4 separate regions of the Homo sapiens genome follow, and all the other regions are linked to region 2. Evidence: fine-mapped expression QTL. A gene starts in region 2. Each other region holds a variant in brackets. All regions are shown on one strand. Distances are from middle to middle.

Region 1 (8,034 bases), 83 kb before region 2:
GCCTTCCTCCCCTGTAAAGGAGGAAAGAATTTGTCTGAGTAGCTCAGCACCGGAGCCTGGTGTTCCGAGTGGAAAGCAGATCTGTGATCCCACAAAGCAGGCTCCTCTGCTTCCAGATGGAGGGAGCAGCCCAGAGCCCAGCCAGCCCCCTGTCCCAGCCCCACAGAAGCCCTGGATTCTCCTCTGCTTACTTCAGAACTCAGCCGTCAAGGACGAGAAGTGCTGGGCAGGATGATCCATGGCTTGCCCAGGAGAGGGAGGACTGACTCAAAGCCTGGCTCCCGTCCCCGCTCCTGTGTCCTCAGGCGATTCTCTTCCTCTTGCAGGCCCAGGTCTCTTTCGAGATAGAGCAAAGGGCACAGATGGGATTCAGGGGGGCAACCAGATGGGACAGCAGGTGACTGGGTGCTGGAGATACAGGCAGCTTGAAGCTCCTGCACTCAGACACCCAGGCATCTCCATCTGCCGCTCCTCAGGCCTGGGCAGCTCTTAGGGCCTTGGTTTCCCTTCCCAGCTGGCCTCTTGTGTCCATCATATTTGCCAAAATAAAGATGAAGCTGTTGACTGGGGGATGGGAATGGGGATGCTGGGGAGGAGTGCGGGTTGGTAGAGTGGAGTGTGTATGTGTTGGGTGGGGGGTCTCATTGCCCTGACAGCAAAATAAAAGGGCTCCTCCATGTAGGGCTTGTGCTGGCAAAGGAAGCGCCAACTCACTCCCCAAGGGCTGGGGCCCATGTAGCTGCCAGGAGCTATAAAGTTGAATACCTGCCGCTGCACCACGCCAGCCCTTTCCGGATGCTCAGAGGGGAAAAAAATAATAATAGGTCAGCGGGCCGAAACCGGTATTAAGTAGGAGTCCTCTGACTCAGAGAGGCCTTAAGAACTCTCGGTGAGTGAAGGAACTGGCCCTGCAGGTCGTCACAGAAGAGCCATGGGATCCGAGCCCCGCGCAGCCACATGACTCACAGCCAGCTTCCACCTGCTCAGGGCCTCGGCTTTCTCCCTGTAAAGTGAGGCCACCTCCCTTACCTCGGGGCTGCAGCGACAATCACTCAAGAAAGGAAAGGAGCAGGGTCTGAGGTGGAATTTGGGCCCCACCGCTGACCAGCGGAAGGATTCGGGCAATTGGTTTAACTTCGCTGCATGTTGGGCTCCTCTGTTCTATTTGTTTTACTGAGAATAAAGGAGATGTTTGGCTATCAAAAGCGTGATAGAAAAAATAATTTTATGAAAACCTTTTGAACAGCATGAGGACAGGAATGCAATGGCAGGGCCCTTTGGGCGTTGAAACCCCTGTCTCAGCAGCCCCCCTTTCCCTCTGCCCTCCCCCCGCAGGCCCTCTCTCCAGCCCCTACGACCATGGACTTTACCCCAGCTCCACTGGAGGACACCTCCTCACGCCCCCAATTCTGCAAGTGGCCATGTGAGTGCCCGCCATCCCCACCCCGCTGCCCGCTGGGGGTCAGCCTCATCACAGATGGCTGTGAGTGCTGTAAGATGTGCGCTCAGCAGCTTGGGGACAACTGCACGGAGGCTGCCATCTGTGACCCCCACCGGGGCCTCTACTGTGACTACAGCGGGGACCGCCCGAGGTACGCAATAGGAGTGTGTGCACGTAAGTGAGTCCTCCATACCTTCTGACCAGCCCCTGAGCACCCCCAGCTCTGGCCCCAAACCCCTCTCCCTTGGCACCCCCACAGCCTTTCACCTGGCCAGGCTTCCGTTCAGCAGGAGATACACCCCATGATCAGAGGCCAGAGGCTGGGTCCTTCCTGGGAAGGGGAGGCAAGGATGCCTGCACTCTTCTCGCCTCCAGAACTTTGCTTCTTGCTTTATTCTCAGTCCTGGAGGCACATTCATGGCTGTCCCCAGGGAAGAGGGAGACGCCATGAAATACCTAAGCCTGGTTTTGTTCTCTTAGTGGTAGGATCTTTTAACAAATGTCCATGGCCTACTAGGACACACCAGCATACTGCAGAACTCCAGATATTTTGGTAATATTGTAAATTAAAAAATATGGTTTTAAAAATCCAGTAGCCTTGAAAGAATGAAAATCAGCAGCCTGCAGTCATCCCTTCCCACCAGCTACCTACATTTCTCAGTTACTTCAGTCACTTAAATTTTCTAGTTATTTCTTCTGAAATATAATATAGTATATTATAGAAATATACTATATATTCTATATAGTATAGAAATATAATATAAAGATAATATATACACTATAAATATTATCTTTCTAATGAACTTGAAGAACAGTTTTCACAGGGGGAAATATACTACATATACACTATATATAGTAGTTAAATATACTATATATACACTATATATAGTAGTTAAATATACTATACACTATATATAGTAGTTAAATATACTATACACTATATATAGTAGTTATATATACTATATATACACTATATATAGTAGTTATATATACTATATATACACTATATATAGTAGTTATATATACTATATATACACTATATATAGTAGTTATACATACTATATATACACTATATATAGTAGTTATACATACTATATATACACTATATATAGTAGTTATATAAACTATATATAGTATATATAGTAGTTATATATAACTACTATATAACAGTAGTTATATATAACTACTATATATATATAATTGCTACTATAAAATGTATGTGTTCTGCTATATATTAATTGCCTTGATATATCAATTTTTGGATAATATATTAATATTCTAAGATAGCTGATGATTTAGCTCCTCAATAACCACCTGATATAACCCCTACCTTCCAAATGACATTGCCATAATTTTTGATTATACAATCATCAGTACTTATAATATTATGACCAGGTAAATATTGTTCACTGCAGTATGAGATCAGGAACTGGCTTTAATTCACTTCCTTATGATGCTTTTGTTTTTCCTGGACTTTCTAATGGCCTTTGCTTTTTCTTTATTCTTGGTGTATTCTGATATCCTCCTGTTTGGAGGTGGTTGTTGTTGTTGTTGTTGTTGTTAGTTGTTGTTTTCTTTGGTCTTCAAGTGCTCCATCACGGGTATTCTATCCTTTTTTGTTCCAAGACACCTCCTTTATGAAACTTTCTGACCCCCTGCTTCTGTCCGGACTTGTATTCCCTTGAATTGTGTAAGCATTACCCAAAATATATGACTCATCAGATTAAGAGAGCTACCTAGGTATTATGATGCAGCAGCCTAACTTCTGAAAACTTCCACAAAGTCTCATAAACCCAAAAACTCCCTTCTTCCCTTAGTGCTGAATCAAGCCTTCCCCTTAACTATGACTCCATATACACCCCGTCACATAGTCACACACAACGTAGTCTCTCATCCTCAGCTAACCATTATATTTTTTGAGGTGGATTGTCCATGAGGGTTATGTACATCATTTGCAGTCAGACAATTTTATTTTATCTGAACCACATGGTTAATTTATGACAGTTTCTTCTCTTTTATCATTGGTTCATGCTTCAACTTTCACACGAATCCTTGTGTCTTTGGCTTTCTGTGAATAACCATCCCACTTCTCCCATCTTTCTAATTTTTCTTCTTTTACTGAAACTCATTAGCAGCCACATAAATGGTATGTTCAAAGAGAACTTGCAGCATCCGCTGCACAGAATCATCTGATATGTTGATTATAAATGTTATTCTTGAGCCCCACCCCAGACTTGTTGAATCAGAGTCTCTGGAAGTGGGAATGAGGATCTAGTCCTTTAA[C/T]AAGACTCCCAGGTGATTCTCATGCATGCTAAAGTTCAAGAATTGCTGCTAATATACTCAGTCATCTGTTCCCTCCCCATAACCCAGGTAGGGAAACCTGGCCTGGACTTCTTACACTAGAACCACCTCCAGTTATATGAGCTTGTCTCATAATTTATTCTTCCAGTAAAAACTGTTCTTCAAGGTCATTAAAAAGATACTTCTTTTCACTACCATTGCATTAATCTCTAAAGCTGTATTGAGATCTTGTCATCTGCCAGGCACCACTCATTTATAGATGTTCTGTCATGGATCCAAAGATTGTGTGAACCCAGAAACTGCCTGTCCTGCCTGCCTTCCCCACCGGTGGCCTGGAAAACCCCCTTCCCTGTCCTCCTCACCCCCTATCTCTGCATCTTAGGTCCTGCCTTGACCCAGTACAGCCACTTAACTTCCCAACACCATGGGCTTCTGTGTACTTCCTTTCCTTTTATTTGAAAAAAACAAAAACTGTAGGCTAAAGGAGATTGTAATAGATTTTACGCCTACCAGTGGTTCCCTGGTCATGAAGTTTTACAAGCATTGAGATAAATAAAGCTAACCAGGAGCTATAGAAATTCTCAGAGGCTTCAAATTTTCATGTCCATTGCCAAATTCCAAAAGAGAGGTATCATAAGCTTCATAATAAATTTTTTAGATGTATTTAATACTAAATTTTTTCAGTCAGATAGTTCCTTACCCACCCATTACACTACACACACACACACACACACACAAACACACAGTTATACATATACACATCACACACATATGTGCCCACACATGCACAAACACAACTCACTAGTGCTCTATTGAACATGTTCCCGGAAGTGCTACCATAGTGTCTGAATTCATGAGACCCTAATGCAGGAAAGAAGAGAGTGTGGGGTCTGCAAAAGAATACACCTCTGGGCCAGAGGGTAAACAGAACAAACGGTTCCTCTAAGAAACAATCTTTCCACAAATGGTCAGCTAAGCAAATGGACAGTTCCTAGGACAGGCTAAATCTGTCCTTAAAGATTTGCATGTAATTAGACCAGAACAAGGCAGGTAATAAAAATGAGCCATTGCAACCCTGGCTTATATAACTCAAACAGAGTATGATGGGGACAATGGCAATCTGGTGTGTGCAAGCCCTGGCTTTCAGAGATGACCCTACTGGGCCCAGCCACTCTGGCCAAGCAGAAAAAAGCTAGGTCTTGTTCAGCATGCTTAGTTTTCAAGAGAATCCAGGTACATAGATTTGTGTATGATTTGTAAACATTGGCAATACATTCAAAAATATTTTTAAAACCACTCTGTGGGCCAAACTAAATACATCTGTGGGCAGAGGGTGACCTCTGAGTTACATCATTTGGCTATTTCAGTTGCACAAACACTACTCTACGTTTAAATGAAGCTGGGTCAGGCCTGAGGTCAGTGTGGTTTGGTGGAAGGATTATGATATTTACAAGCTGACAGACTTGAGTTTTAGATCCTGGCTCTGCCACTTGCTAGCTACGTGACCATGTGCACATCACTTAAGGAGTGTCATAAAACCAACCTCACATGCTTGTTGCAAAATAAATAAGGAAATGTCAAAAAATAAAAATAAAAGTAATTGGCTGCTCTTGGCTTGCCTTGCAAGGAAAGTTACCTCAGTCTTATTCACGGCCACCTTTAGAGGAGGGAGCAGGTCTAGCTCCTGGCCTAGATCCCCCATACTGAAGAGTGAGGGAGTAGTAAATTCATGCATGCTCTTTGGACCTAGACAACCCAGCTGGAATCCCAGCATCATCACTCACTATTACTATGACTTTAGGCGAACTACTTAGCCTTTTAAGTCTCAGTTTCTTCTTCAAGGAAAATGTGACAAAGAAAGTTTATATCTCTGGGTGGTTAGAATGTCAAGTGCCTGCTACATGGCAGGAGCTGAATAAAGAGTACAGCTCACCCCAGTTCCCATCCATCCATCCCTCCATTGATTCTTCACACAATAAACATAAGTGAGGCAGCAAAAACAAACAGAGCTACAACAAGGCATGGCCCACTGTCCCTGCTGACAGCGTGAGCTGACAGTCCATGGGAGGTGTGAAGGGAGGGAAGGCCCCGATGGCAGAGCAAGTTGACTTGAATTCCTGAAAGTGCTTCAGTAAGAGGAAAGCTAACTCGATCACACCTGCACTTGCAGATCTGAGATTAGATAGGAGGTAGTGAAGGAAACCCAACTGTCTTCACCATCTCGCCTTTGATTAGTTAGAAACTTAATGAGTCAGCTGAAGGGACCATCTGCAGCCGTCATGCATCCCACTAGCCTGTGGTGGGCAGGCTGGTCAGAGCCAGTAGCAGCATCTCACTTCCCCACCCAAAGCCCCAAGGAGAGAGACTGGCGCGCCTTCTAGTTGCACTGGTTTTCAACCTTAGCTGCAAACAGGATTCACCTGGGGAACTTTTAAAATACGGAGATCAACAAAAGAAGAATACTGACACCCAGGTTCACCCCCATATTCTGAGGCCTGGCATGAGCATCACAATTTTTAAAAGCTCCCCAGGTTCCCCTGGGGTTCCCCTGTGCAGCTGGTAGGGAAAGCCACTGTGCTGGGGACTCCGGGCATCTAGCACTGACCTCTCCCTCCAAAGTCTCCACATGCAGGGACAGAGTTCCGGGCTTAGCCCACTCCCTTCTCCACACACACACACACACACACACACTCTTCCTGGAGAGACAGCGTGCAGGCAGAGGCAGGGTGACTCAGAATGCAAAGATGAGTGATTCACCCAGCGCTTCCTCTGCTTTTTTTGCCTTCCTCTGTCCCCTCCTTCACTGGTGTCTGGTGGCAGGAAATGGGCTGTGGAGTCAGGTCTCCTGGGTTTGAGTCCCAGCTGTATCATTCAACAGTTTCGTGACCTTGAACAAACGAATCATTTAACCTCTCTGAGAGCTTTCCTGTCCATCAAAGGAGAAAAATAAAACTCTTCATGAAGTCATTGGGAGAACTGAATGAGATAATGTATCAGATGATACCTGGCACTAGATCAGAGGGTCAGTTGATGTTAGCATCTTTCCTTTCTGCACCTCCTGCACGGATAACCGCACCCCAAAAAAAACAATAGCCGCAGCAAGGTTCACACAAACCGGGATTCTGCTTCCCGCTGTGGTCACCTTGGACGCTATGTGTCTTCACCTTGCTGAGACTTTGTTTTGCTATATATAAAGACAAAGATGATAATGTGATAGTGTTTCTGTACAGAATAAAATAAGTAATGCAATGCACAATACAGAGGAGACCCAGTATCCAATAACAGAGACAGTACTTCGAAAACCTTCATGCCTGCTAGACATTAGGATTACTGCTATTATTAACAGCCACCTTCGGGCAAACCCTGAAGGACAGAACTGTTGGCCCACTGCAGATTCCAAACTGCTTCTCCTTGGGTGGCCACTCATGATGTCCGGGGCTCTTTACCTGCATTTCCAGAAGCTGTCCTCCAGAGAGAGCATGGTATCAAGGGTGATATCTGGTCCAGAAGTCCCCAACTCTCCCTGACTCCAAACTGGCTTAACTAACTCCACATGGCCACTTGGTTGTCAACCAGCCATCTCACGCATAATGGAGAACACTTGAGTCCACCCAACCCAAACCCTGCTTGTCCAAAGAGGACAGAGCATCTTCCTCCTTCTCGACTCCTCTCCTTTCCCCCGCACAGCCCCTCTGTCAGTAAGTCCTGGCAGCTCTCCTTCCAAATCTGTCTGGAAGCCGAGCTCTTCTCTTTCTGGCTTCAGACCGCTCTCTCCCACCTGGGTCTCAGGGTGGTCCCCCATGCTACCTTTGCCCTCTGACTCAGCACCGTGAGTGTTCTCATGTCCTCAACTCAGCACCATGAGTGTTCTTGCAAAGCATACTTTTCATCATTCATTCAGCAGTTGCTTACTGAGCACCTACTATGTGCTAGGCTCTAACAGCTTTGCACTTCCTCTGAGCCTACAAGGAAGCCTTCTCGGACCTCCTCTCCTTCCCTTTTCCTTCTTGTCTCCCCTCCTCAGACCTCTCCCACAGCCCAGGCTTGCTCCCACCTGTGGTCTTTTTACTTAAGTGGGCCCCTCCCTACCTGGAAAGCTCCTCCCCCAACCCCTGGGCGGGCTTCCTTCCTCACCTCCTTCAGGCTTTGCTGAGCGTCATCACCCAGTGAGGCCTTCCCCATCCACCTGATTTAACCCTATTCCCAGTTGCGCTGAGAATACTCACCAGCAGCACTAGAGGCTGCAGCATTTACCCCAAAATAATTTTGCCACAAAATATCTCACTTTTGTT
Region 2 (8,034 bases):
CCCACCTGAGCCATATGGCAACAGGCAAATCCTGAAACTCTCCTGGCCTCAGTTGCCTCATCCATTCAATGGAGCAATACGATCCAGGCAACGTTCTTGCGAGGATGAAGGCAGATGGAGGGAGACAGTGGCTGCTCTGGAGGGAGAGAGATGTCGTGTCCCTCCCTGGCCTTCCTTCCAGGCTGAGTCAAACCTGAACCCTGCTTGAGTCTCAGATGCTGAGTCATCACGCTTTCTCTCCCAGGACAAGGCCTCTGAGTCACATCTGGAATGGGATTCTCTGGGGTTGGGTCCCAAGGAAGAACTGCAGCTTTGGGCCACCCGAAAAACACAATGCTATCTTTCTTTCAGGTCCATGAGGAGGCAAGTTCAGGCCAGCGGATTTCAACGTAACCCAGGGGGGCCCTCAGCTCAGTTGAGATCTGTCTTCTGTCATGGGGGGGGGGCAGCCCCATTCAGTCAAAGGCCAACTCAGGGGGCTGCAGCCTCTAAGCCCCTGCCCTTCAGGCTGGCTTTGCTAATCTCTCAAGAACACCTGATTTACACTTAAAAAAAATCATTCCGCTCTGCCCCTTTGGCCTCAAAAGTTTCCTCACCAGAAATTCAATGAAGATGCAATTTCCTTTCGCCCCTCCATAGCAGGCAGGCAAAATCCTGCCAGGAACCCTTTCCACTGCCTTCAGTCCCACCCAGGAGCCTCTCACAAAGCTGAGCTCCAGCTCAGTTCGGCCTGGGCACATCCCTCCCCATCCCTGTGCCTCATTTTCCATCTGTAAAATGGAAAGAAGTTGGACTAGGTAGGTCCTGTGTGAGTTTTTTATTCCATTCCAAATGATCAAACTTTGTTGCTCCAAAAGAACTTCCTCACAAGAGACCCAAACAGACACTCCAGGATCCCTCAAAAGCAAAAGCCAACACCTCCACCCATGCACAGTCTATTACCTCGCCCGAAACTCAACCTGCTGGTTCACAGGAGAATGGGGCAGAAGACCCAGAGCCATCCACTTCATCCCATGTGCATATTTCAACTCCTCCCACCTGCCAGGCGCTGGGCCAGGGGCCAGGTTACAGGGCAGGGCAGGCAAATCCTCCTCCTTGCCCAGATGCAGTGGGAGACACGGTCCCACAAAGCTAAGAAGTCACAGGTCAGGGGAACACCCAGTTTTCCATCCACACCAAAACCCTCTCTCTCCCTTACACCTTCCTTCATCCCCGACACTGTGCCACCCCAGCCTGGGGCTGGCTCTGCCGCCACACACACCACACAGAACCGGTCTGCGTCTCCAGCCGTGTGTCTTCCCCACCAGAAGGCAGCCCTTCCAAGAAAGGCGCTGGGGTTTGCCCCCTCTGTACCTTGCTTATTTCAATCACATTTGTGAAACTCAATAAGAACGCCAGAATTTCTCAACAGGAAGAGTCTAGACTGAAAAATTCGCCTTGAAACTACATTTCTGCAGCAAGAACAGGGGGTTTGTATTTAGATATGTTCTTTTGAGGCAGCTTAGGAGAAGGTCCCGTGCAGCTGATGGGTATTATAAGGATGTCTACCGCCCTCCTGCCTGGCCACTGGCTGACTTCTGAATATTAGATATTTCCCAGTAGCTTAAAGAAACCAAACAAACTGAAGTGCCCCCAGCGTCCGTGAGGAAGGGGTGTTCTTGGATGGGCATAAGATAACCAAGGGCCCTGCCTCCCCCACCCACTGCCAGGCATCTCCCACTTCCAAGCCACAGAGGCGTGCTGTTCAGGACCCCCAGGGACAGCAGGGACAACAGGCGGGGGATATGGGGGAGGGGTGGGTAAGGAACCGACCCACTAAATCCCAGCTCCAGCTACTAATTTGACAGAGGCGTGACAGCGTGTTTCCCCCAGAACCAGCCGCATTCCCCAAGCCCAGCCCGAAATCTCCTCCCGAGGCTGAATCAGAGACCGCGGCGGATCCCCCAGGAACGTCGAAGTAATTCCAGCTGTTTTCCCCCGTGGAGGGCAGGAGCGGCCAGCACCAGAGGCAGGGGAGGGGAGGAAAGCGGGGGAGGGTGGGCGGAGGCGAAAATGACGCCACTCCTAGCTCCAGCCAGCTCAAGGGGCCGCCAAATGTCCGCGAGACCCCTCTCGCCCAGGTCACTTCTCCCACGCCGCCGATGCGCCAATCCCGGGTTCCTCCGGGGGCGCACCCTGCCCAGTGGCGCTCGCAGACACTTGCTCCGGCTCGCGTGTTGCACTGTGACACACCCTGGACCCTCCCCCCACACACACGCTTACACTCACACATGCACACCGCCCTGTGTGTGCTACGGGACTGAAGCGCCACCAGCCTCTCGGATCCACACCCGTTCCCGACCCAGTCTGCAAGCCAGACACACCCACGCCCCCCTCTCCAGCCTCCTTGCCAGCGCCACTCACCTCTACCAACCCCTCATCTACACACTCGCGCGCAATCTCTCCGTTCCCAGACACAGACACACACACACACACACACACACACACACACACACACTCACCTAGTCCCTTCTGCACCCACGTCCAGCGCGCACCCCTGCCAGCGGCGCCAGCTGGGATTCGGAGACGACGCCAGGAAACGCTATCCTGGTATTTTTTCGGACCGTCTCATCGCCCCCTTCCCGACCTCCAGAACCCCAATCCCCAGCTAGGGGGGAGATGAATGGGACCCTGTCTTTTTTTCCTCCCTTTCCGTAATTGAACCCCCCACTTCAGCGGTGTCTGCACCCAAAGCCCCCTCGCGCCCGCGCCCCGGGGTGACCGCGCACTTGCAGCTCCGGGGCGCTTACTCCTGGAGTACGCGGGGCTACAAAGGGCGGTCCTGGCGCTCCAGCGGCACCGCACGGGCGGCCCCTTTCTGCTCCGCGTCGCGCCTGGGAGAAGAGGGCGCGGGCTTACCTAACGCGAGGGAGAAAGGAAAGGACGGTGCCGAGGCTGGCGGCCCAGCGCCCCGCGGAAGCCGAGGGCGGATGGTGAACTGACGAGCTTCAGCACCAGCTGGGAGCCAGGCGAGGTTTGTTTACGTCCGGGCGGAGGGCGACTTTATAGGCGCCGCGGCCCCGCCCCCGCGCCTCGCCCCTCCCAGACCCTCGCAGTCCCAGCACGCAGCCGGGACACACCCCTTCCCCGCTCCCTGCTCCCTCCTCCCGGGCGCGCCGGGCTGGGCTGGGCTCCGGCAGCGCGCGGCGGGCGCCCACTGGAGCCGCCGCCTGTTGCGCAAGCAGTCGTAGGGGCGCGGCCGGGAGGGGCATCGGGGCCCGGGTTGTGGGTCGGCTCTGCAGTCCCCTCCGAGTCCAGGGCCTCGGCCTGTGCAGCGGGCGCGTGTGCCCTGCCCGGAGGAGGCGTTTGTGTGCTTGTGCGTGTTCATGTGCGCGCTCGTGCGTGTGCATGTGGACTTCCTTGTGTCTCCGTATGGGCGGAGGCCCCCCATCTCTGCCTCAGAGTTTCTTCTAAGAGTCTCGTTGCGCCACGCCCTGAGCGACTCCCTTCACTTCCTGTAGGTCTCACCAGCTCGGCTCTCCAGCCGGATTCGGCTGCCTGCCCAGCAGCCGCCTTCGCTTTCGCCCGACAGGCTCCCTCCGATTCTCAGCCTTCCGTGTCGCCAAAGCTCTCGCTGAAATCCTCGCTCCCGTTTAATCTCGTCCATCTTGCCCACCGCCGCCCAGCGCTTACCCTTCCCCTCATCTTCCCAGTTCTAAGCACACTCACTGGACCTTGCCCACTGGGCTCTTCTCTCCTGCCCCACAAGCCCAGATGAGAGGATTCTCACCCCTTCCTATTCTGATTTCCTGAACTTTCATGACTCACCCTTTCCAACCTTAGCACCGTCCTGCTCTGCTGCTCTGTTTGTGCGTAACTATTGGCCTGCATGTTCCCATCTGGCCAAAGAAACCAGCAATTCTCAACCCCTACTGCATATGAGAAGTCCCAGAGGAGCCGCCAAATTAAAAAATAAATAAATAGATAGATAATAAAAAGAGAGAGATGGACTCCAGAACAGTTTAATCAGAATCTCAGGGGGTGCAAACCAACTGGGCATTGGGGTTTTTACAAAGCTACCCAGGTGGCTCCTGACGTGCAGCCAGGTTGAGAAGCACTGCATGGAGGAACATGATTTTATGAATAAAGGAAGTCTGACTCACAGCTGGCACCGTCATTGTCCTCAGGCCACCTGCCCAGCGTTGAATTTGCCACTGAGCCCAGGACCAGACCCAGGGCAAGCTCAGGTGACCCTCCCTGCGCCTCCACAGACACACACGCGCGCACGCACAACACTTCCTGCTGAATTGTAAACCTCTTTTCTGTGCCAACCCATGCTGTCCCCAAGGCAGGGGCCATGGCTTTCCCCTCTGATTATTAGGGCCAGTTTTGGAGAAGGGTTTTCTGGAACAAAAGAAATATGGAGAGGGGCAAACAGCACCTCTAGGACCCAGGACATCTGTGTTTCAGGCCTGTCTTTGACACTATCGATCACAAATCAACAAATCTGGGCTTCAGAATTCTCACTGGCAAAGGGAGAGGATTAGATTCAATGATCTTTCAGAACCTATCTAGTGCTAAAGCTCTGTTATTCTATTACAAATGACCAGTGTGAAGAACAGAGTTCCAGTGTCATGGGTTTTGCTGCTAGAAGAGTTTGGCTAAACTACAAAGTTTGGCTATTAGCTATGAAGTTTGGCTAAACTACAAAGTTTGGCTACATTCAAGAATGCCTTGAATGTAGGAGCACATTCCCCCACCCTAGAAAATTTAACATCTAGAATTAATAAGTGAATGAATGACCACTGGGCAGTCTTCCATTCTTTATGGATTTGAACTAGTTCAACTGCAGCATTCCCAGTGAGGGAAAATTTTTCTTATTTCAAATAAAATGTTGTGTCCAGGTAGAGTGGCTTACACCTGTAATCCCAGCACTTTGGGAGGCCAATGCAGAAGCCTCTCTTGAGTCCAGGAGTTTGAGACCAGCCTTCACAACATAGTGATGTCCCATCTCTACAAAAAAGATGAAAGCTAGCCAGGCCTGGTGGCAAGTACCTGTAGTCCCAGCTACTTCAGAGGCAGAGGTGGGAGGATTGCTTGAGCCCAGGAGTTCCAGAAAAGTCTGAGCAACATAATGAGACATCATCTCTACAAGAAAATAAAAAATCAGGTGGGCTTAGTGGCATGCAGCTGTAGTTCCAGCTACTTGGGAGGCTAAGGCAGGAGCCTTGCCTCCCTAGGCCCTGAAACTTATTTATTCTGTCATTCCACAAATGACAGAATTGAGCTGCTCTTATGAGCTGGGTCCTGTACTCCGCCACTGGGAAAGGACTGAAAAGGCAAAAACATTTTCTACAGGTGCATAGCATGGTACAGCCCCAAGACGCAGTTTCTCCATCCATACAGCGTGGTTGAGATGAACTCATTCATTCCCTAACTATATTAAGGACCTACTATGCCCAGGCACCATTCTAGACCCTGGGGACATGATCATGAACAACAGCAACAACAAAAGTGCATCTCTGGGAGCCATCCTGCTGTCTAAAGACCCTCCCAGATCAAGCAGCCTGTGTGCCTGTTATCCTTTAGCCAGCTTACACATACCCATTTTCCCATAGGCTCCCCATTGCGGCGATTTATTGAGTGAGCACCTTTGGTTTTTTACCTGCTAAAGATACAAGAGTGTCAAGTTCAAAAGTGCGGAGTGTCAAGATAAGGAATGTCAAGTTCAAAGGCGCAGGGAAGGCGGCCCACTTCTTCAGTAACAAATGGAACTAGTGCATGGAATTAGAAGGGCATTTTGCCAGGGGAGGCCCTTGCCTGTCTCTTTGAGGAGGTCCTCAGGACAGAATGCGAAGAGCAGCCCAGATTTGCAGCTTGAAACCCCGAGGAGGTTGCCTGGCAGGAGGCTGGGCTTGTGTGGGAAGCCTAACCTTCTGGAAGACCATTAGCATTGAATAGGTCAGAAGACAGAGGAAGGAGAGTGGAGTGAAGAGAAAAGAGCAGAGAAGGGAGGCAAGAATTTGAGCAATGGAACACAATTTTCCAAGTGATGGCATTCTAAAATCAGAGTCCACATCACCTTGGAGAAGGCCTGAGGAAGACACCATTTGGATTCCACACTCCCCTCCCTCAGCCCAACACAGCCAATTTTCCTTCCCTGTTGAAAAGGATGTTTTCTTCCGCTGAGCACCAGATGAAGTAGTTTTCTTAGCTAAGTGTCACGCTGCAGGAGAAAGACTGTCTTTAGTACAGGCCTGGATGCACATAAAGCATAGAGGACGCCCACCCTATACAGAGGCCCCTCACTGGGACCTGGGAGCTGCATGCACCTCCACATCCCCCACCGCAGCCAGCTGAGGTGGCAGAAGCTCACGGAGCTGAATGTGGGTGCAATTGCACTGACTGTTTACATTATTCCTCTTTCTCGCTGGTCAGCAGTAGAATCAGATTTGCTTAGTAAATGCACACGCGCTGCAAATCCGTCACAGGATGAGATTGGATTTTCTGGACTAATGTCCACTGGAAATTTCTACTTAACAACAACTTAGATTTTATACTAGAATATTCTAACCAAATGTTCCAAAAATGACCATAGGAATCACCTGTTCCCAACTGTCTTTCTTAAAACTCATGGGTACTCGGGGTTGGGAGAGACCAAGATGCAGCAGGGATTCATGGAGAAGAACCCGGTGGTCTGTGGCCCCCAGCTCCAACTTCACCACTTATGAGCTGTAGTACCTGGGGCAAATTACTCCACCTCTCTGTGCATGGAGGAAACGAGTGAGAGAAACCATCAGACCTTTCAATCACAATTTATGGGTCTACTGCTGCAGACCATCATCTTTTCTGTCTGTCAAAATGAAAAAGTGTCCGTAAAAGTGTCTTCCCACCTCCAGTCCTGGGCTCCCTCGGGACCCCCTCTCTCCTCCAGCATCCATCTCTCCCTTTCTTCTGGATCAAACTAATCAACAAGTAAATATTCACTGCAATCAATGACCCACCCTAAACCAATCCCCTCTTAATTCCAAGCCCCCCACTCCTGTACTGCAGCCCAATCAACAAGTAAACATTCACTGCAATCAATGACCCACCCTAACCAATCCCCTCTGATTCCCAAGTCCCCCATTCCTGTACTGCAGCCCAGTTCCTCTCACCCCTTCCTCCCTAAACTTTCCAAAACAAGCATCTGTACCCAAAGGCCCACCTCATCTCCTCTTCCTTTTACTTTGTAGTGATTATCAAGTTTTTCTTGAACCTGGTCAAATAAGTCTTCAAAACTTGTTAGGAAAAACAACAGCCTTTGTCTCCCCACTTTTCCACTTCCCTATCCCCAGAAGTCACCACTCTCTGCTCTTGGAGAATTATTTCTATCTTATCTTTGCCACTTGCAGACTCTATGCTCTTGGGCAAGTTATTTCATTTCCTTCCTCTGCCTCCTCATGTATAAGATACACATAACAATACAGGGTCATTGTGATAAATATATGTGTTAATATATGTAAAGTGCCTAGAACAGTCCCTGGCATATAGAAGGCTCTCATTAAAGTGTTCACCCTCATCCTCACTGTCATCATCACCATCATCATCATCATCATCATCATCATCATCATCTTGTCTCATCCCTCCTGGCATCTTGCACACCTGACCGTAGAGAAGTTCAGTAAATATTGGTTGAAGAACTGAGCAAATGCAGATGTTTCTCTTTGAATTCATCCCATCTTATTCGGTCTTACTGCTTGGACTCTGTTAGGAGGGAAAAGGGGATCCTACCTGCTTCATGATCCCAGGTGGAGGGACTGCCATCTGGGATTTTTACTTAAGTAAAAGTAAATTATCCCAGTTATCTGCAAGCATGCCTGGCCTGTAATATCATGTTGTGAGCAATGAAAATTAAAAAAAAAAAAAACCATGAAAGGAAAACAATTCCAAATGAGGGTGAAGGGTAGGCTATGTTCAGGATGTGTAATAAATCCTTTACTTTGAACATAAATGAAGAGTTGTGCAATGTTTGGCCCTTAGAAAATCAGTTTCTCCTCACTCCTGGCTTGCATG
Region 3 (8,034 bases), 60 kb before region 2:
GCTGGGCATTCAGCAGACACTTCTCAAAGCAGGGATGAGAAAGGGCATGTTCTGCCACAGTGAGCTTGGCTGTCAATGGGCTCAATCATGCAACAGATACACTCAATTCACCACCACAACTACATCAATTACTCAGACACCTGCAGCATGTATGTGGGGGGAAGGGGGCAGGAGTAACATGAGCCCAGTCACAGTTGATTAGACAGGGAGTGGCACCTGAGTAGAGCTGGACCGATGAGATTCTTCCCCTTAAGAGACAGAAACACCTGATTAGTTTGGGGTTCAAGAACCAAAAGGTCAGGTAGCCCTTGGGTTAGGGCCACCATTTTATGCTTCAGAGTTACACAAAAATCAGATCTTAGAAAGGAGGAGGCTAACTCCTCCCCAGTCCTGTCTCCCACCCCATAAGGCCAAGCCTCACCTTCTGCTCTTGGATTCCATGTGGGACGCTAGCGAAGGGTTTCCATGCAGCCTGTGAAGCCCAATATAAATACGTAAGCCGATGGATTTAGGCCAGATCTAGGGGTCAACCTAATGACTCTCTTAGGGAAACTATGGAAAGGGCCAAGGACAGACCCTGCACATGCTAATCTCAGCACGCATTTGGCCTCCCAGATGCTGCTGAAACCCAAGAGTCAGGAGATTTGAAACCAAAACAAGCAGCTAGGAGACCAGAATCAGATCCCCAGCTGGCCAAACAGCCTTTGGGCATGTAGCTCTAAATAGCACTGATACATGTGAACACCTGCAACAGTTCCTTCCTCGAGGAAGCCAGACCACAGCAAGTCTCTGTGCCACACTGACTCCTCAAAGCTGGCACAGCCCCCCTGCTGTGATGCTTCCTCGCCAGTTCCTTCACCACCCGCTTTATCTTAGTTCCCGACTCACACAGGACACAAAGTAGGAAAGGCACTTCTTATGTTTGTTGAATAATCACAAGCCAACATGCTCCTCCCTCCCTCCTGACCTCGTGATCCACCTGCCTCGGCCTCCCAAAGTGCTGGGATTACAGGCGTGAGCCACCGCACCCGGCTGTATGGTTCTTACATGTATGGATTGCGGTCTCATGTCTCCCTAAAATGTATACAACCAAACTGTGCCCCGATCACCTTGGGCACAGGTCGTCAGGACCTCCTGAGGCTGTCACAGGCGCCTGTCCTCAGCCTTGGCAAAATAAACTTTCTAAATTAACAGAGACCTGTCTCAAATTTTGGGGGTTCACACTTCCAAAGAATGAATATGGAAAAGTGGAAAGGGTAACCTGACGATAGAGAAATCTGGCAAACACTACCCCAGCCACGCCATCACCATTAATCCCATCAGTGATAAACCACAGTGATAGCGTGTGGCCTGGATATGATGTGAGAAGCAGGACAAATCACCTCTGTGGGTTTCCCCGAAAAACCCACAGCCCCAAGTTGTACTGTGAGAAAAACTACTTACAAACCTCAGTGGGGAGACTTGTGACAGAATGTCTGACTAGTGCTTCTCAACGCTGTTGAAGAAAAGGGAAAATCTGGCCGGTCGCGGTGGCTCACACCTGTAATCCAAGCACTTTGGGAGGCCAAGGCGGGTGGATTACCTGAGCTCAGAAGTTGGAGACCAGCCTGGACAACACAGTGAAAACCCGTCTCTACTAAAATACAAAAAAATTAGCTGGGCGTGGCAGCCTGCGCCTGTAATCCCAGTTACTTGGGAGGGTGAGGTAGGAGAATTGCTTGAACCTGGGAGGCAGAGGTTGCAGTGAGCCGAGATCACACCACTGCACTCCGGCCTGGGCGACAGAGCAAGACTCCATCTCAAGTAAAAATAAATAAATAAATAAATAAATAAAATAAAATCTGAGAAACTGTTACAAACCAGAGGAAGCTGAGACATGATGACAAAATGTAATGGGGTGTCCCAGATGGGATCCTGGACAGAGAGAGGACATTAGGGGAACCCCAGTGAATTCTCAATATGGTCCAGGGCTTAGTTAACAGCAACGTCCAACTGATCTCCCGGTTGTGACAAGTATGCAGTAACGTCAGATATTAGTGACAGGGGTCACTAAGTACAGGCTATATGGCAACTCTCTGTATTGTTTGCAACTGTCTGTATATTTTAAACTAATCTTAGTTTAAATAAGAGGTTACACTAAAATCTCTTTTTTTTAATGTAGAGTAGAAAACAAGCATTACAATGGTTGTCACTGGGCATGAGAAAAGGAATGATCTTTCCACATACATTTGTTTGTAATCCAAACAAAATGTAGCCTGGGTACGGTGACTCATGCCTGTAATCCCAGCACTCTGGGAGGCCTAGGTGGACGGATCACTTGAGGTCAGGAGTTCGAGACCAGCCTGGCCATGGCAAAAACCCCATCTCTACTAAAAATAAAAATAAAAATAAATTATCTGGGCATGGTGGCGCATGCCTGTAATCCCAGCTACTCAGCAGGCTAAGGCACGAGAACTGCTTGAACCTGGGAGGCGGAGGTTGCAATTAGCGAAGATTGTGCCACTGCACTTGAGCCTGGGTGACAAAGTGAGACTACGTTTCAAAAAATAAAAATAAATATTAAAAATAAAAAAGCTGTTTTCCTCGAATTATAGGTTGGAAAGTTTTTTATCCTCATCATTGTGCTGCCCAAGCTACTGGGCAATTGAAATGCAGCTGGTCTGAATGCATTGCGAGTGTGAAACACACTAGAGTTCCTAGAATGAAAAAAGAATGCAAAATACCTGGTCAATAGTTTTTATAGAAGTGGTAATATTTTAGACGTCTTGAGATAAATGAAATGTATTATTAAAATTAATTTCATCTGTTTCTTTCCACTTTTGAAAATGTGGCCACTGGGAAATTAGAATTAACATATGAGCTGACTTAAATTTCTGCTGGACGTGATGCTCCGAGGAAAGAATTCCAGAGATGAGGGGCTGGGGTCCCCTAGGTGTCAAGGACGGGCAACCCCCCAGTGAAACAGCCATCCCTGCACTGCAATGTTTCACACACACAATCTCTCAGGGACAGAAAAAAGACACAAGCCGCTGCAAAGTTACAAATTTATTGGTCTGGAAATAAATACAAATATCTCATTAAGAAACTCCTCTGGAAAGACTTGTGCACAATAGTTTCCCATCCGTACTCAGCCTCTCTTGCCCCGATCCCCGACTTTTCTACTCAAGGCCAGGGAAGGCCTCCAAGGTGATGGGCGGCAGGTAACGAGTCATTGCCTCTCACGCCACCTGGAAGGCTGGACTACTTCCTCCTCCCAACTGCGGGGTCCCAGAAATCCTCGGGTCCCAGTGGCTGACTTACAATATTCAATTCACTCTGACCAAACTTCCTATGAGAAAATCCACGGTGAGCCAAAATGAAAAGTACAAGGCAGTAGTACAGGAACCTGGCAGCCGCACTGGCCGCCCAGAAACGTCAGTGGTGCTGCCCCATTCGGCGAAAGGTTAGGGAGCAGGAAAAGAGGAAGCAGGAGAGGGAAGGAAAGTCCCATGGAATATGTATTCCAGAATCCTTACATTTTCTCAGCCACCGCTCCCCACGTGAGTTCCCACCCCCACCCCGACAAGAGCAAAGAGTTCTGAGGATCCAAGAACGTGACCGGGTCAGACAGGTTCAGCTACTGAGTTCACGTTCCAGCCCAGCTGTCGAAGATTGAAAACTGGATTTAAGCCAATCACACAAAATTCCTGGAACCAAGCTGGGATCCACAGAAATCACAACTGCACTGGATCTCAACACAACAACAAGGAATCCCTTACATCGAGTAACCCCAATTCCACCCCCACCCCAGTGCTCCTACTCCGGCCCCTGCAAGGACACTCATCACAGCCAGGGCAGCTGTGGAATGTTGCCCTCCATTCTAAGGAATGCAAAACAAATCTAAATGATCTTCTCCCTGAACAAGAATAATCACTGGCTCATGTATCAGGGGTGGGAGGTTGGGGCTGTGGAGGAGAGGCAGAAAGCAGAACTAAAGCCTTCAAAAACCATGATGCCCAACGTTTGCTGAAATATTTTTGTCTGTAAAGCCAGGAGATTTTGT[C/T]GCCTGCTTTTGCTGCACATTAAGAGGATGCTAGAAAAATCAAGCTTGTTTGCTTCTGCATTCAAAGCTTTCTAGATGCACCAACTTTAAAAATCGGTTTCTTCAAGTTAACTACGTAGATTTGTTGTTCCAAATGCCTCTAGCCTCGACATGAATCCCACCTTTTCCCCCTTCCTGTTTTGCCTGTTTAAAAGAGGTGCCTGCATGTCACTATTACCCCCCTCCCCAAATGAGAAAAGGATTTTGTTTCCGGAAACTGGATCAGCTTCTCCTCAGTTAAAGAGGAAACGGGAAGTGGGCGGCTGGCCTTCTGACCAGGCACCCGTTTGAACCAGGATGCTCAGGGCGGCCTAGGCTTGGCTTTGTGAAGTGTGTGCTGCTACGCGTCTTGTTTTTGGCAGTTTGGTGTCTCTGAGGGAGGGGAGGAGAGTGGCAACCGGCCACTGGTTAATGGAAGAGGATGCGATGCGGAGATGCTTGCTTCCTTCCTTTGGTCCACCGCCACCCCGCCTTTGGAGAGGGCACCCACGTAATAGACCTCATTTGTCTCCACCAGAGCTCACTCTTACAAAATAAGCTTTGGATTAATACCGAGTTAGGCGCAGTATGGCAGGCAGGGGGCGAAAAGGGGCCGGGGAGGAGGGGGCCACTACAGAGATCAGAGTCCGGGGGCGGCAGCTGGGCAGGCCGCCTAGCAGGAGACCTCCATGGACTTGGGCCCGGCGCTGTTCCCAGCAGCACCCGAGTTGGGGGTGATGTCCAGGTGGGCCCCCTCGCTGGTGTGCGAGCGGCTGCGGGTGCCCTCGCTGGTGTGGGAGCGGCTTCGGGTGCCCTCGCTGGTGTGGGAGCGGCTGCGGGTGCCATCCAGAGAAGTGACGCTGGAACCAGAGGCTGTGCGGGACCGCATCAGGCGGGTCATGCTAGCCGAGGGCACTAGGGGAACAAGAGACAGCCGGTTAGAGGGCAGGAGACTGCCAGGTGAGGAGCCAGGCATGCCCGTCCACCAGCCACATGCTCTTCTACGTGCCAGCCCCAGAGAAGACTTGATCCCTGCAGCCATCCAGCTGCTGGGCCCCCGTCCTCTCCATGTCCACTCGGAGAGAGAGATGGCAAGGCCCAGATGCGGGAAGGAACTGCCGCAATCACACCATGAGTGACTTGAACCCAGATCTGGGTCTGAACCCCAATTCTGCCACCTGTTAAAAGCTGTGTAATTTTGAGAGTGTCCCCCTGAGCCTCCCTGTTCCCATCTGTAAAGCAAGTATGTTAAATACTGACCCCTGGTATCAGCACCTGTGTGTACGCCCATGACCCCATGCTGTCCATGATCACTGGAGCAGGGAGGACACCTGGGGTCAGTGGCCCTGCACATCACAGGTGGGGAAAGGGAGAGGGGCCACACGGCAAGTTCCCGGCATGGCTATTCGTTGTCATCTCTCCCAAAGAAGCCTGTCAGCCCAGGTGCTAACAAGGGCGCTGTCTATTCTTTGGGATCTTCTCTGAGACCTCAAATGCTCTTGCACATGGCACGTGCAAGTGGCACATGCTGATGGGGTAGCACGTGCTGATGGGGTGGAATGAGGAGGAACAATCCTGCCCACCTGTACCGGGTGGGACAGTGTCCCGGAAGATTCACACCTACCTGAAACTTCAGAAGGGAACCTTATTTGGAAATAGGGTCTTTGCATATGTAATTAGTTAAGGATCTTGAGATGAAATCATCCTGGGTTGAGAGGGAACCCTAAACCCAATGACTGTGATGTCCTTATAGAAACAGCACACAGGGATATGCAGGGGAGAAGTCCACGCAAAGACAGAGGCTGAGATTGGAGTGATGCAGCCACAAGCCACATAAAGCCAAGGATTGCTGGGGCCACCAGAAGCCAGGAAGAGGCATGGAAGGTTCTTCCACAGCAGCGTTGGAGGGAGCAAGGCCCTGCCCACACCTTGATTTTGGACTTTAGGCCTCCTGAACTTTGAGAGAATGGATTTCTATTGTTTTCAGCCACCCAGTTTGTGGAGATTTGTTACGGCAGCTTTAGGAAACTAGTACTCCACCCAACTGAAGCATCATGGCTAGGAGGCCACACTGAGTCAGACATCAGAAACAGGGGCAGTTGATCCACACCAAGCATGCAGGGCTTATGTTATCTCCTTGATAGGCACAGGGAGGGGCTTTTGATGTCAGGCACTCCCAAACAGAATTAATCCTTGCTGAATTGTCTTAAAGAGCTAGTTTTGAATTCAGAAAGAATTGGGGTCAATGCCACATCCGCAGCTCACATATTTCTCTGAGCCCCTACTTCTCACCCACAAATCTGGGATGTCTACTGAGCAGGATGAGAAGCGTACAGTGAGCACTGATGCCAGGTGTGCAAAGGGTTCATCAAGCCAGCACCCCGTGGTGTGCAGAAGGCCAGTGACCGGTTCCTTTCCTTCTCTTTGGCTGATGCCTTTGAGACCATAGCTCTTCCTGTTATTTTCCCCCCAAGACCTGCAGGAGGCTTCAGCTTTCTGGTAATAGAAGCCGATTTGGGGAGAAAGATGAGGTCTAGCATTCACTTCCTTTCTCTCCAGAACACACTCTCAAAGCAGAAATCCAAACCCTGGCGGGACCAAGACAAATGGGAGCCACAATTCACACCGTGCAGGGTAAAGCAGGACTGCCCCGCGGCTGTCTCCATGGCTGTCTCCAATGACAACCTTTGCCTGCAACTTCCGTCGGGGAAAGCAGGCTAGAAAGGCAGGAGCCCCACTAGCAGATAGCTTCTGTTGGAAGAGGGCACCTGGGGATGTGGATCCTGCCTGAGCCTGAGGCATGGAAATCAAACCTGCCAGCCTCGCCTTGCTAGAGCTAATCATGGCTAAGGCCAATGCTAGGACTGCAGTCAGCTTACCAAGCATACTCTTACTATACATGGGCAAACAGTTTAAGGAAATGATAAAAGGGATCAGAAGTTCAATAACTTCCTAGTAAGGGAGGACACACGAATTATAGTTCCAAGCAGTAGGGTCAGAAGAGCCACTAGTCATGTCAGGGCCGGACCATGGCTGACAGGCCCACAGCACTGAGTGTGGCTGCTGTTCAGCCGAGTTACAACTCGCCAGGGTCTGTCCTAGTCCTGGGACAGCACTTCTGGAAAAAAGGCTGTATGTGTCTAACAAACTATAACTGCAAAATAAGAACGAGTGAGTTCCTGAATGATGCTTCCAATGTATCCTCCACTTCCCAAAGCTCATGACTTGACTATGGCATGCTCCACCTTGAATGTAAGCAACTTTGTTAGCCACTTCCACAGAGCTTCACAGTCTTCAAAGAATTTCCACAGATCCGCCCTCTGCTCCCTGCTTACAACCCCGAAGCCTCAGCTTCATCACTGATAAGATGGGCTAAGAATATGTCAAAGGAGTACTGTGATGGTTCAGTGAGATAAAATAATGTGTTAGTAATCTTTCATCATCATCGACACCATCTTCATCATCACTGTAGCTAGTGGTCTCTTAAAACTTGTGATCAAAATTTTTAAAAATGTTATTGTTTCACTGTTGGTCATTGTCTTGGTGCTTAAAGGGACAGTCCTCATCTAAACCCCCCAAAATCCCTGGTGTGAAACAACTTCTATTCAACAAAGGAGGAAAAATGAGCCTCACTGATAAATGAGAGGCTAGATCCTCCAGGCTGCCACATGCCCTCCACACACCTAACTGTTTCCTCCCAGAAAGCTGAAGCTGGCCAGGGGGACACAGAATTGCTCATCCAAACCTGGCTCAGGACAGAGCACTTCCAATTCCGACACATGCCCCGACCCACTGCACACGGGGAATGCCATACTCACTGTATCCCATGCCCTGCACGAAGTACTTGAAGGCCTCAGCGAGCTTGGCCGGCTGCGAGAGACAAGGAGAGAAAATGCAGTCAGTTGCTGGGGAGCCAGATCACCCGAGGCCATGGGGGGCTGTGCCTGTGGTCACCTTCATTTGAGAGTTTGGCT
Region 4 (8,034 bases), 77 kb after region 2:
CGGGCTGTCCTCACTTTAAAATATTTTAAAAACCATTTTTGTGTCTATTAGCCAGACTTTTCCTAGCCACAACTAGGTTGAGGCTGACAGTTTCCAAACCACAGGTTGGGGGCATAGGCAGGAGGGGAACATGCTGAGGGAGAGGGGCAGGGGATTGCCATAGCCTGGGAAAGTTGGGGACAGGGAGGAGGGAAGAGAAGAGGAAGCAGGAGGAGGAGGAAGGAGGAAAAGAGAGAAAGGAAGAGGAGGAAGAGGGAGAGAGGAGAAAGAGGAAAAGAATGAGGAAGAGCAGAAAGGAAGGAGGAAGCTTAATGCATATAAAATGCACAGTGAAAACAGGGTTGACTGAGGTTCAAATGTGCCTCCCCGGGCAGGTCTTTCTCCAGCTCAGCTCTGGCTTCCCAGGGCCTTGTTTCCAGGTGCCCCTGTTCCAGGCCCACAGAGAGGCTCTTGTGTGGCTGATGCAAGTCGGCCATGGAGAAGCTGTTTCCAGTAGGCTCTTTGCTGGTGGAAACCTGCACCTGCCTAGGGTCTGGTACCACACTGTGATGGGCAGCCTAGCTGTGGGCCCAGATTCTGAGGCTGGCTTTGGCACCAGCTGGCTGTGTGACAGTGAGCAGGCTACTAGGACCTTTTGAGCCTCTATTTCTTCCACCATGAAACAGGACTAGTAATTCCCAAGCCACAGGGAACTTATCAGGGTTAAATGAAATGATGGAAGCAGAGTTTGGGGTACAAGGTGGGAGGGAGCTAGGAAAATGGTAGCTCTTTTCCTGTGAGCAGCATGGTGACAGCTCAGAGATGTGTGAATGCAGCCCAGGACGTGCAGTTCCTCTTGCCGGGACTTGTGTAACTGATGGGATTTGTTGGGTGATCCTGTGACCTGTAGAGCAGGAAGGAGCTCTGGCAATGGGGAGTACGGGGGAGAAATCCATAAACCAGGGAGCCTAAAACTGCATGGCAGAAAGTTCTGAGCATCAGAGATGATGTGGCTAGTGCCACAGTCTGAGAAGTTCCCATTTTGAATTCCAGAGTCTTTGGGGAAACAGAATCATAGGTATGTGTTTCTAAGGTGTCTTTCTATTCCAAGTGTCAGAAACTCAACTCAAATGGACTTAAGACACAAGGAAAATACTCTGGCTCATGTGGCCCAAAATTCTGAAGGGGCTGCGAGCTTCAGGCAGGGCTGGATTCAGATATTTAGACATTGTCATCAGAATAGCATGTGTGTGTGTGTGTGTGTGTGTGTACGTGTGTGTGTGCATGTGTGTGCGTGCATGTGTGTGCCTGTGTGTGCACACGTGTGCTCATGCATGTATCCATGTCCATGTGCCATGGCTCTGCTCTCCTTTATGTTGTCTTCAATGTCAGGCAAACTTCCCAAGCAATGATTAAGTTTCGGTCTCGCAGCAGCTTCAGGCTTGTATCCTACCCAGTTACCATTTCCTATAGAGTTTCAGCAAAAGCCCTCTGGGCAACTCTCACTGGACTGGTTTGGGTCATGGTCCAATTAGAGTCAGTCACAATGACCAGGGAAAGGAATGTTCGCCATGGCCAGATGCACTCGTTGGCTAAATAATGTATACGCACCATCATCCCCTTCTCCTATGTCCACATGCTAATCCCTGAAACCTGGGAATGTGTTACCTTCTATGGCAAAAGAGGCTTTACAGATAGATTTAAATTAAGGATCCTGAGATGGAGACGTTCTCCCCATTTGTCTGGGTGGCCCTGGTATAATCACAATAGTCCTTATCAGGGGAAGTTGAGAGAGAAGAGGTGGCCTTGGAAGCATAGTTTGAGCCATGGTTTGAAGATGGAGGAAACGGCTTTACCAAGGAATGCAAGCAGCCTCTAGAAGCTGGGAAGGTCAAAGAAATGATTCTCCCCTAGAGCTTCCAAGAGGGAGTTTGGCCTTGCTGACACCTCTTGATCCAGCCAAACCCATTTGAAACTTCTGATGTCTGGAGCTCTAAGAAAATACAGTGTTGGCGCACCTGTAATCCCAGCTACTCAGGAGGCTGAGGCAGGAGAATCGCTTGAACCTGGGAGGCGGAGGTTGCAGTGAGCCGGGATGGCACCACTGCACTTCAGCCTGGGTTACAGAGCAAGACTCATTTCAAAAAAAAAAAAAAGAAAGAAAGAAAAAATACACTGGTGGTATTGTAAGCTGCTAATTTTGTGGCAATTTGTTACAGCAGCTGTGGGAAGCTCATGAACCAGGCTGGCTCACGTGTGCATCTCTGGAGGTGGGGCTGGGGGACAGAGAGAGTCCCCCAAACTAGATGGACTGAGTGTGAAGGAGGGACAGGAACCAAAGGCAAACAAAGCCCCTTTACCAAAGAAAGGGGGGGTAGGAGATGGGCTGGCGAAAAAGAAGGCAGAAGTCACAAAGATACAGAGGCATTGTGGGGTTCCTTTCGTAGGAAGTTCAAGATCAGGCAAAACAAGCTCATGGAAAGAAAGGCTGGGGTTGCTTCTCAGAGAAGGGCTAGATATTGACCAGGAAGGGGCACCAGGAGTCTGCGAAGCCGGGGAATGTTCTCTGTCTTGACTTCAGTGGTTGCTTCATGATGTATACATATGTAAAAAATTCTCACTCTTAAGATGTACATCCACTTAAGATGTACACACTCTGTGCATTTTTCTCTCTGGGTGAGTCATTCCTCAATTAAACAGCAGTTATTGAAGGGATAATTCATGGCAGCAAAACTCTGCCATTTGAACCCAATTAGCTGTCTTCTCTGTGCCATAATAATATTCATTCATCTCAATCTTCACTCATTTGACAGAGGAGGAAACTGAGGCCCACGTGGTGAGGTGCAGAGCACAGGCAGAGTCATGTAGCCAGACCCAAGCCTGTCTGCCATGCCCTTCCTCAGCTCTGACTGCTTTGAGCTGGCCCAGTGTCCTGCTCTGCAGGCAGGGGTGGGTCCTTCACCGGCACTGCCCCCCCCACCCCTGCCGCCCGATGTCACAGTTACTCCTTGGGGCCTCCTGGGGAGAAAACATGAGTCTCTTCTTTTTTTCAGTGCTTTTAGGCTGCTAGAAACTTCCGATCCCTCACTCACCTCTGCGCTCACTCACCTGCTCTCACTCACCGTCTGCTCTCACCCACCTTCCGCTCTCACTCTCCTTCTGCTCTCACCCACCTTCTGCTCTCACTCACCTTCCGCTCTCACTCTCCTTCTGCTCTCACCCACCTTCTGCTCTCACTCACCTTCTCAGGATCTGGTGCCCAGCTGGGGTCTCACAGCAACCCTTGTTACTGCCCCTATGGAAACACAAGACCTCCTGGGGCAACGAGGTGAGGGTGTACCTACTCTCAGCATGCCTTTTGCTATCCACTCCCTTTTATTCATTCAACAAGCATTTCCTGAGGGCTCAGGAATTGGGGGTATAGCTGCAAACGGGGCCTCAAGGGCCCTGCCCTCAGGCAGCTGACAGTCTAGACAGGAGACACGCAGTAGCCAGATGAGAAACCATATGACTCCACAGATTACCCAGGCACCTGCCATGTAAGGGGGAAGCCACCTGGGCACCCAGGAAGCCCCTGCTGCTCACAGCCATCCTCTCCTCACCTTCAGCACACACTTTGCCTTAAGAGGGAGAAGGAAACTAAGCCGGGGGTATTAAATGAGGTCCCAAGTCCTCCATCATCCAAATCCTCTGCATGGCAAAGCCAGGCTTCTCCCCAGCGAGAATCAGGTGCCCTCCCTGCTCCAGGCTGGCCCGCTGCAGTCAGCCTCCTCTGAGCCAGCCTCAGCTTCTGACTTCACGGAGGCCCTGCCATCTGCACAGCACATGCCCTCAGGTCCAGAAGAGACTGGGCAGAGCAGGTGTTCGTATCCATTTTTCAGACCTGCAAGCTGTGGCTCAGAGAGCAAAGAGTCCCACCCAGGGTTACCGTTGCTGGTGGCAGGGCCTGGCACCTCACATCCATGCACCTTGGGGTAGAATTATAGGCCTGTCTCCTCCACTGAGCTGGGCTCCAGGAGGGCTGGGGCAGGGCCTGGGTTCAACTCCTAAACCCCAAGTGGGCCCTTAGCTGGGACCTGGGAAACCAGGGTCTTTTCCCCGTCGGGGCTTGCCCAGGCCATGGGTGCTTGTCACTGCCTGGCACAATCCCAAGGCCACTGTTCCAGGCTGGAGAAGGGGAGGGCAGTGGGAAGGCTGAAGGCAAGGGAGGGCTGAGGCTGGAAGCCACCTCCCATCTTCCTCCCACATGGAGACGTGCAGCACCTCACGCCCCTCCCAGGAATCCCTCAAGGCCCAGAGGTGACTCAGCAACACGTGAGCTAAGCTGTCCGAGCTGTGCCCCACCTCTTGCCAGATGCAGAGCCCAGTGGG[G/T]GGAGGGAACGTGCCACCCGCCACGTGCACCCCTGCAGCAGCTCAGCCTGCAGCAACAGAGCCGCCCCTGCCTCTCCCTCCCAATCTCTCTCTTCTTCTTTGTGGGGACCTCACATGTTCCTTCTGCCTCCATTCAACCCTCACCTCGCTCTACAGGCATTAAACGCAGGACTGGTAGTTTGCTGTGCTGATGGTGCCACAAAAGCTACCTCCTGCAATCCTCTCTGCAATCCTGCCAGGCCAAGTGGGGAAACTGAGACTCAGAGACAGTTTGTGACTTATGCAAGGAACCGAGATTCAAACCTAGCTCAGCCTAACCCTGAAGACTGTGTGATTTCTCTTTCATGAGCCATGCTGAGTGGGATCATTGACAAACTCTACCCCCTTTTGCGCATTTTACAGAGTGGGAGGGAAGACTGAGGCACAGGGAAGGGAGGTGACTGGTGGGGGAGGGAAGGGACCAGCATAATGTTGTCCTAGGACAGAACGGTGGCTCTCTGTGTCCCCAGGGCACTGTGGCTGACACTGGGACAGACTCCCTGCCCTAGGAATGTGTGGTGAATGAATGAGTAGGTGCTGGGTGTGCTCTTTCAACGTGATGGTCACAGGCCACATGCGGCTATGGGGCACTTGACATGTGACAAAGAAACTGAATATCTCATTTGATTTTATTTTAAATGTAAAATATCAATACTGTCTACAGTTGATATATTTCAAGACATACAGCATCATTTGCACCATGCTTTAGCACTTGCAGAGCAGTTTATAGCCTCCATCTGCTCTTTCGATTCTCAAAACTCACCAAGACCCACATCTCCACTTTCCAGAAGAATGTGAAGTTCAGAGAGGTCAAGAGACTTGCCCAAGATCACACAGCCAGGAAGTGGCAATGCCAGAGAACCTGGCCACCCTGACTGTCTGCCAAATCCCTTTCCACTTTGTGCTTTAGTCACAGTTGCAAGCGCTTATATGGCAGGTCCACCTCTCAGTGCTATGCCTGCATTACCTCAATGATTCCATCCATTTCCCTAGGGGAAAAGGACACCAGTGTTAAAGTTCTAAGATGAGGAGACACAGACAAGCTGAATTCTTTGCCCACTGCTGCCTGGTTAGAAATCAGCAGAGCTGGGGTTTGCATTTGAGGTTCTGGAGCTGGACTCCGACCTTTGTTATTACGTGAGTGGCCTTTGAGTGGTGTGTGGGGCGTGTGGAGTCAGCAATGCTCCTGTCGCTGAGCACCTTGGGTGACGCCTGAGTCTCTGAGCACTGGGAAGCCACTGGGAGGTGTTAAGCTCAGACCATGGGACTTTAGGAGAGGGCTCTGCTGAGGTCTGGGGAGGGACAGCTGGGGTGAGTTCAGGACAGGCGGCGCAGGGGGAGACTGCTCAATAGCCAAGCACTGGCCACAGAAAGGAAAAAACAGAATGACTAGTTAAAGGACTTGGCTGCAAAGTCAGGCTGTGCAAGGATGCTGTCCCAGCACAGATAGGGAAGGGACACAGCCCGGAATCCCAGGCGGCAGCCGCACTGCCACGTGGAGGAACAAGAAGGCCCATGCAGAATGTGGCTGGAGGCAAAGGTGCATGGTGAGGAACAGGCGGGGTCTGTGGGTGGAGCCCCCTATGGTGCAGCAGGCTGCTGCCCAGGGCCGGTGACCCAGCAGGAGGACACAGAGACTGCAGACAGGAGGCTCCAGGGCACAGGGTTTCCACATGGCTCTGTCCTTGGTGGCCTGAGGCCCCCTGTTTAACTCCAAGCTGCAACTGCAGCCTCCTACCCAACCAAGAACACCAAACATACCTTGTTGCAGGTTTCAACCAGACATACCAACGGTGACAGGGAAGATGCCTCCACCTGCATCTTCCACCTGCTCATGGCTCTGTGACCATTCACTTTAAGAGAGGGACAAAAACCTAAAGGGAAAACAAATAAAAAGCGTCAGGTGATTCTGCTTGTAAAAGGCTGACGTATGATTAACTTTGAAGAAGGCTTAAAAGTAGCTTTATTGGGTAACAGGACAAAAAAATACTTATTTAAAGGAACTACTTATTTAAAATTGCAAACCTCCCACACACCTCATGCCCTGTTCTTTCCCATTTCTCTTCCTTTGTGGCACTGATCAGGGTTTCATATGCAGCTTTATGTAAGATACAAATTTATTTTGCTTAAAGTCTATCTTCTTCTATTGGAAAGTAAGTTCCATGAGAGAAGGAATGTTTTGGACTTTCTTGTTCACCATTGAACCTTTGGAGTCTAGAATTGTGCCTGGCATATAGCAGGTGCTCCATACGTTTCTGTTCAATAAATGAACGAAAGGGTGGCAACAAGAAAGCAACGATGCAACAGTGATAACGTGGCACCCATGGAAGGAGGTGAGGAAGCATCTGTGAGGCCAGCCAATCACCGGGTGTCATGCATGTGACATGCATTCGGGGGCTGCTAGGGACCAGCCCTGGGCTAGAGCTTTAGAGAGGTTTCAGGCGAGAACATTGTCTGCTAAGTCACAGTATCTGGCTAGTCTCAGGTGAGGCACATTAAGCTCAGCTCAAGGCCATGAGCAAGGTGATGAGCAGGTTTGCCTGCTGCAGGCCGGGCTAGCCCGGCTGTTGGCAGAAATAGCAGGGAGAGCTGCCCTGAGCAAGGAGGGGAGGGGCTTCCTGGCCTATTTTATGTGCTGGCCATTCCTGTCTGCTTCTCCCATACCCCACCGAGCTTCCCCTTTTGCCCTGGAGACAGTCATCAGTGATTTGAAGCTGGGCTGGTCACTGCAAAGAATCCGGAATCATTTCTAGGAGTTAGAGCTGAGAAGAAAGTGATGAGATGCAAGAGGCAAGACAATGCCAAGCTGATTGTGGTGGACACAGAGTCCTAAAAGGGGCAGCTTGTGCCACAGAGGGGCCAGCAGAGCCATATCTCCTCTGTGAGTGCGCTTCTGTGTAAAACAAGTACCACAAGTTCTAGAGTCAGACAGGGCCACGTTCAAATCTACCGGTGGCCCTTCCGAGCTGTGTGACCTGGAGCCAGGTACTTTTCCTCTCTAGACTCTGGTTTTCTGCACCTGTGCATGCATGAACATGTGCCCACACATATACACACACACACACATGAGAGTGGTATATTTTTGCCTCACAGGGCTAGTGTAAATATTATTAAATGGCATACATATAAAGCTTCCCTTTCCTGCTTTGAGCTCAACTTTTAAATTCTTTTTAAAAAGATTAAAAATCAATAATCAAGTGATGCACACGTATTGCAAAACAATTATTAAAATGAGATAATCAAGAAGAAGAAATTTAAAATCACCTGTCATCACAAGAATGAGAAGACAAGCCACAGGCTGGGAGAAAATATTTACGAAAGACATGTCTGATAAAGGACTGTTATCCAAAATATACAAAGAACTCTTAAAATTTAATAAAGAAACAATACAATTTTTTTTAACGGGCAAAAGGCCTGAACAGATACCTCACCAAAGGAGACACACAGATGGCAAATAAGCATATAAAAAATGCTCAACATCATAAGTCATCAGAGACTTGCAAACTAAAGTCTAATGAGATGTCACTATTAGAATGGCCAAAATCCAAAACACTGGCTGGCAACACCAAATTCTGGAGAGGATGTGTGGAGCAAAAGGAACTCTCATTCGTTGCTGGTGAATTAGTCTGTTCTCACACTATAAAG

Which allele goes with the higher level. Positions count from the first base shown, and alleles are read on the strand shown. Sizes are in standard deviations (SD) of each study's normalised expression. Not every link is listed here.
For the expression in lymphoblastoid cells of the gene that starts at base 3,017 in region 2, T is the high allele of the variant in region 4 and G is the other (small effect, 0.38 SD a copy in GEUVADIS).

The links.
Region 1: its variant is fine-mapped to the expression of NDRG1 in whole blood (INTERVAL, PIP 0.97).
Region 3: its variant is fine-mapped to the expression of NDRG1 in whole blood (TOPMed, PIP above 0.99).
Region 4: its variant is fine-mapped to the expression of NDRG1 in lymphoblastoid cells (GEUVADIS, PIP 0.92).

The regions. Positions count from the first base shown.
Region 1 is chr8:133,211,529-133,219,562 of GRCh38, forward strand. It overlaps CCN4 (cellular communication network factor 4), which reads left to right. Exons shown (of 5, transcript NM_003882.4): 2 at 1,336-1,615. LOC102723635 (a long non-coding RNA gene) reads right to left here and starts at 1,459. Exons shown (of 3, transcript XR_428405.3): 1 at 1,371-1,459; 2 at 192-336; 3 at 1-11. RefSeq lists enhancers at 248-1,447, 6,175-7,374 and a silencer at 5,076-5,165. The variant C/T (reference allele first, on the strand shown) is at 3,725.
Region 2 is chr8:133,294,236-133,302,269 of GRCh38, forward strand. It overlaps NDRG1 (N-myc downstream regulated 1), which reads right to left and starts at 3,017. Exons shown (of 16, transcript NM_006096.4): 1 at 2,899-3,017. RefSeq lists an enhancer at 1-701 and a silencer at 2,898-3,347.
Region 3 is chr8:133,234,145-133,242,178 of GRCh38, forward strand. It overlaps NDRG1 (N-myc downstream regulated 1), which reads right to left. Exons shown (of 16, transcript NM_006096.4): 15 at 7,879-7,930; 16 at 3,031-4,975. The coding sequence ends at 4,734. Among named protein-coding and RNA genes, the nearest start is that of CCN4, 47 kb to the left of the region's middle. RefSeq lists an enhancer at 869-938. The variant C/T (reference allele first, on the strand shown) is at 4,043.
Region 4 is chr8:133,371,406-133,379,439 of GRCh38, forward strand. It overlaps LOC105375771 (a long non-coding RNA gene), which reads right to left and starts at 6,263. Exons shown (of 3, transcript XR_001746096.2): 1 at 6,151-6,263. RefSeq lists an enhancer at 4,265-4,344. The variant G/T (reference allele first, on the strand shown) is at 4,351.